2 separate regions of the Homo sapiens genome follow, and region 2 is linked to region 1. The links come from fine-mapping of genetic effects on gene expression. A gene starts in region 1. The other region holds a variant in brackets. All regions are shown on one strand. Distances are between the middles of the regions. Region 1 holds the start of CLBA1 (clathrin binding box of aftiphilin containing 1). Region 2 overlaps LINC02691 (long intergenic non-protein coding RNA 2691).

Region 1 (2,894 bases):
CAGGCTGGGGGAGGAATGGTCAGAAAGAGCGACCCAGCTCAGGTGGCCCCCACCTGGCCTTCGTGTGACCCATTTCTGCAGCCTCCTCTGCCAACTCATTGCTTCCCTGGCCTCAGGATGGGACTGCCAACCACATGGCCAGGGACGAAGGCCAGGAGAGAAGCAGACGCTCTGGGGCTGTCAGCCCCCTCCCTGGCCAGCACGCCACAGCATTCGAGGGCTGTAGGCCTCTTGGTGTGTACACGTCCCACTCAACATGGTGACCACAGCACAGCAGAAATACCTCAGAAGGTGGGACGGCAGAAGTTCCTGTCACCCAAGGTCCACCCTGGCATGGTTGGTGAGAACTGCACTCTTTTGGGGCAGAAGTGGTTCTCGGTGGCTGGGGTTCTGTGGGTCCCTCGAGGAGTTCAAGGGACTGTGAGAATTGTCCAGACTTGGCTGAAGATTCCCGAAAGCCTTCAAACTCCCCCCAAGTGCTGCTGTGTTCCCCAGGGTCAGGACATCGGGCAGTGCAGGTGGAACCGCCCTCACGGGGCATGGAGATGCTGGCTTTCCCATCGGACAGGAGAAGGTCGGGGCAGGTCCGTCTCCATTCCAAACTGTCATCACTCAGCCTCTCAGGTGCCACTCGGAGGGAAGCGCTGGCTGCTTCCTCCTGGAGGTCACTCAAAGGCTCTCCCCCCAGCTCCCGCCGGCCTTGCATCTTGGAGCCCCCAGGCCAGCAGAGGCCCGATGGGCAGCTGCTCAGGAGACATGCACGCCGGGGTGCTGGCCGCCCAGGACTGCCCAACCTTCCCCTGCCCTGGAGAGGGCCAGGGGACGCTGCAGGAGTGCCCCGGGCTGCCCAGTGGCTGACGGTGGAAAGTGCCCACGTGCTGCTGTGGAACTGACACAAACCACAGGAATGGCCCGGTCGCCCGGGAGTCCTGGCTTCCTCCCACGCAGGCGGGCGCGGAGTCCGACACAGAGGCGCGTACCAGACCCACGGCAGGTGTGAGAGGGGCGGCCCAAGGTGGGGCTCCTGCTCTGGAGAGAGCCGCGAGGGGGCCTGGGAGGCCCACGCTGGCCAGAGGAGCGAGAGCCGGGCGCCCGCGGGAGTCCCAAGTGGGAAGGAGTGGGTGCGGCGCCCCGGGGCCTCCCGAGAGTCCCTCTCGCACGCGGCCCGCAGAGCAGCCCTGGAACGCCTGGGCCTGGACAGGGCCCGAGGTGGCCGGCTAAGCGCCTGGCCCACGGCTCCCGAGAGTCCCCGCACCCACCTTGGTCGCCGCCTCGGCGGGGCCGCGCGGGACCAGGGCGAGAGAAACCTGCAACCAGCCGTTCCCTCCTGCCTGCGCCGCCCCGTTGCCTGGCAACGGCGTGCGCCAGCTCCGCTTCCGGCGTCCGTCGCCGTGGCGTCAGCACGCATCCGGGGCGAGGCCAGCGCCGGCCCCCGCCGTTCAGGACCCGCCCCGGACCCGCCCTCCCTGCCCCGGGCCGCCTCCGCTGCGGGTGGGATCGGGCTTCCACACTGGCCGAGCCCTGGGCGCCGGGCCGCTCGAGCTTTCTGTCCGTGCTCAGTTCGCCGCCCGAGTGGTTCTTTCTTTTTTTTTTTTTTCTTTTTTTTTTGAGACGGAGTCTCGCTCTGTCGCCCAGGCTGGAGAGCAGTGGCGCGATCTCGACTCACTGCAAGCTCCGCCTCCCGGGTTCACGCCATTCTCCTGCCTCAGCCTCCCGAGTAGCTGGGACTACAGGCGCCCGCCACCACGCCCGGCTGATTTTTTTGTATTTTAATAGAGACTGGGTTTCACCGTGTTAGCCAGGATGGTCTCGATTTCCTGACCTCGTGATCCGCCCGCCTCGGCCTCCCAAAGTGCTGGGATTACAGGCTTGAGCCACTGGGCCTGGCCCTAGAGTGGTTCTTTCTTCCTCACGACGAGCTCCCCAGGTCCGTCCCAGCGCACCCGTCACCCGCAGCCCCTTCTCCCGGCGCCCCGCAGCCTAACTTGCCGCGCCGCCGACCCCTCTGTGGGTGCAGCTGAGCGACGGCCCCTCAGGACCCCACCTGTCCCTGGCGAGAGCCAAGTCCGTCTTGCTGACTCCTGAATCCCAAAACCTCGCCCGCCCCTAACTCGTCCCCATTCCTGGGGGAAGGAGCTGCGGGGAGGCTCCACCCCTCCCTCGCAGGCCGCATGGAGTGCTCCCCTCCTTTGTCACCAGCCAGACCCGGGCAGAGCAGGGCTGACGGACAGCCCCTCTCCAGCCACTGGACGACCAAGGAGCTAGGCTGGCCTCTGGCAGCTCCCCTCCGGGCTTCCAGGCCTTCTGCCATCTGCCCTCACCCCCAGACTCAAGGAGTCAACCTTGACTCCATCTCCTCCCTGGCCTTCCCAGACTGGCCCCCATCACTGCCTCCTCTGGGTAAGGGGAGGGCCTGGCCCTGGTGAAGCCCTGAACCATGCCACCTACTGTCCACCCCCTATCTACCTCAGGCTCGCATTTCTCCCACCCTGGGGCCTGGGGCCCTGCCTGGACTCTGTCCTTGCTTGAATCACCCCTTCCCTCCCTGGTCCTTCTCAGCCAAGCTACAGAACAATTTAATTTTACAAATGACAAGATGAGATCATTCTCTGCACCTTAGACCCAGCCTCCTGTCCCCGCTCCTTCCTGAGGGGCAGAGCAGCCGGGCCATGCAGTATGGAAGCTCTTCGGTCAGACTGCCCAGGACTGGATCTTGGCTTGGCCACCCCAGCACCGCAGTGACCCTAAGGATGGTGATCAGGAGCTGGCTGGGTTTGTAGACCAGGCCTGGGCCTGTCTTGCCAGCTTAAGGGCAGTGTCCGTTCCCACTGCTGCCCCTCATCCACTGCACGTCCTTGCCGTCCTTGAGGCCCAGGGAGCTGGGAGGGGGGCAG
Region 2 (2,894 bases), 760 kb after region 1:
CCTCCAGGACCATCAGTGGACTCAGGTCGTGGCCTGGGAAGCTGCAGACCTGAGCGAGGAGAAACATGGTGAGGAGCAGCTAGAGGCTGAGCCTCCTCCAACATCCCCACCAGGACAGCCTTGTAAGCAATGAAATGGTTAAGGCCTCCCAGCCCAGCAGAATTGGCTCATTATCATTTCTAATATGGATCAATACTCTTCAGGCATCTGACAAAGCCGGCAGCTCTCTGTTCCCTTCCTGCCCTCCAAACATAAAAGATCCCCTAAGCCACACTGGCCCGGGGCTCTGGCCCTAGCCCCCTCCTCAGGCCTCATCTCCATAGTGGTCTTAATCAAGTCGTGGGGAAAGATGCAAGTCAATAAGTCCTCATTGATCACCTCCTCTCCCCTCCACCCCACTGACATTCTGTCAGCCCCTCCCCCACAGCCAGCCGGGCTAATGGGGGTCCTTGCCTCCCACGTAGGTAGTGGGTGGGGGGTGCTCGTGAAAGCCCTGATTGCTCTGAGGCCCAGGGCCTCCGTCGCAGCGAGGGCTCCAACACAACATATGCCTCCTGCCCGACGGCTTTGTCTTCAACAATAAAACAGGGTTTCTCTCCCGCCTCAGCCCTGGGTCCAATTTATCAGGCCTGGCACTGATCATCTGCTTCCCTGTCACCAGCCGGACTTGGGGGATAAATATAGGCAAGCAGATACAGAATTACCGTGACCAGATCTCTCTGGGTCGGGAACAAAAACCACTTTACACTCCTTATGAAGCATTTCCACCATCACAGACATGAAGGCAAAGGGGCGGGACCCCAGCAACCAACGGGAGCTCATCCTTCCCCTTGTAAGAGCCAGAGGAAGCTGCCACATGGAGCTCCCAGGCTGTGTTCCTTTGGGAAGTCACCTGCAGTGACTGAGCCTCAGTTTCCCATCAGGGACACCTACCTTGCAGGGCTGCGACAAGCACTCACGGAGAGAATAAAACAAAGGATCTTCCACTGAGCTTAGCAGACAGTGGGTGCTCCGTGAACGGCAGTTAGCGCTGCTGCCTTTAACGGTGCGACTGTCCACAGCCAGGTATGGCATTCGGGATGTGTCACGTCCACGCCCCACGGAAATGTCAGTGACAGTTCGCACCCTTGTTCGTCCTCAGCCATCACTCCTAGAGCTGCCATCTGCAGACAGTGACCAGCTCAGGGTGGCACCACAGGCCCGCCCTGCCCTTTTGAGGCTCTGCAGGGCTGCCGCAGGAGCTCCAGGTAGATTGATGCCCGCCTGTGGCAGAGGTCCCCAGCGGCTCTGCACAACATCTCAACAAATGTTCCTGGACAGGCGGCCTGGGCTGGAAGCCGATCAAACACCATAAATACTG[C/T]GCACCCAAGGCCGTGACTACATTACCGCACGGTGTGTAAATAACAGGCCCGGGGTGGAAACACCCGGGAACAACCTCTAGCCAAGTAATTTATGCCCCTGTGAAACCCGATTAGATCCCAGCTAAGTGACTTCGCGGACGGGCAGGCCGCTTTGGAGAGAGAGAGACTGAGTGAGCGGCCACCACAAGCACCCAGGGGGGCCTTCGTGGGGCCATCATCTCCCCTGTGAGGGGGCAGGCTTGGAGCTCAGGCATCCCATCAGGCTGGGTGGGGTAGCATCTTGGTGACCCAGGCCACCCAGGGGTGATGACCCCACTTTAGCGTGTGGTGGGAGGCACCCTGCAGATGCATCCTACCCAGGCAGGATGGACACCCCGTCCGCAGCCCCTGGGACACAGCAGGCCCAGCCTCTCGGTGCATTTCAGTCTAAATGTAGATGCAAGTTCAGTCAAGGCCTCAGCCAGGAGCCGCCCTGCACAACGAGGCTAGCATTACATGTGCCCCTCCTGGGCAGGGTCCCCGGCAGATGGAAAACATGGGCCTGGGGCGGGGACGGCTCCTGACCCAGGATAAGGACCACAGTGGCCAGGTCAGGGTGGCACCACAGGCCTGCTCTGCCATGCCAGCCCTGCCAGGCTGACCACAGTTAGCAGGGTCTGTCAGAGGTGGCCGGGGCAGCAGGAGGGCAGGACACAGCCCAGGCCTTGAGGCAGGCACCACTCAAGAGCAACCGGCCACCAAGTCCTCCCTCAGAAGGGGCTTGTGTCACATCCCCTTGCACTCCCCGCTGCTCCCCCTCCACAGCCCCCCAAAGGGGCTCTACCCCTGGTGCCCATTTCCCCATGGCCCACATACCCCAAGTGCTGCCCCACGGCTACTGCTCCTGCCTTCTCGCTGAGCCTCGCCTTGGGCCCACCCTGCTCCCTGCTTCCCTCTGGCCTGGCCACTCACCAGGCAGTTGGGGCACACTGGTGTGCAGATCTGGGGGCCGGGCACTGAAGTCAGCTCAGGCTCAGAAGCCAGGCAGAGCTGGGTTCAAATCCCAGCACTGCCCGTCTTAGCTGAGTGACTTGAACAAGTAATGTTAACCCAGCCTCAGTTTACTCCTCTGTAAAGGAGACAATAGTGCCTCCCCTGATTTCCCTGATAGGGGTGGGTATCCCAAGTGAGAGAGAGAAGGTCAGTACCCAGAAAACCCTGGGGGACGGTAAGAGAGTGCTCTGGAAGCCACCTGTGGCTACTGGCCAGGTGGCAGTGGTGAGGGAGGGGTGGGTGAGGCTCAGGAATCTGGACCCATGGGAACAAGGGCTGCACTGGGACCCAGGCTGCGGGCGTCCCCTCTCGCCACCTTGGGCAAAGTACTCCACCTCTGTGAGCTCCCAGGGGGCCCTGTCTACCCATCCTCACAGGAACACAGGAAGGATCTGGTCACGTCACCTCTGCTCAAGCCCTCTGGTGGCTTCCTAGTATTTCTAGAGTCAAGTCCAAGGCCTTTCCACCTCGTACCCAGCTTCCTGCCCATTCACTCCACCC

What was found.
Region 2: its variant is fine-mapped to the expression of CLBA1 in ileum (GTEx, PIP 0.92).

Annotation. Positions count from the first base shown.
Region 1 is chr14:104,984,244-104,987,137 of GRCh38, reverse strand. It overlaps CLBA1 (clathrin binding box of aftiphilin containing 1), which reads right to left and starts at 1,350. Exons shown (of 5, transcript NM_174891.4): 1 at 284-1,350. The coding sequence starts at 706. RefSeq lists a silencer at 1,092-1,561.
Region 2 is chr14:104,228,251-104,231,144 of GRCh38, reverse strand. The region is part of intron 1 of LINC02691 (long intergenic non-protein coding RNA 2691); the gene reads right to left. Among named protein-coding and RNA genes, the nearest start is that of LINC02691, 6.1 kb to the right of the region's middle. The variant C/T (reference allele first, on the strand shown) is at 1,361.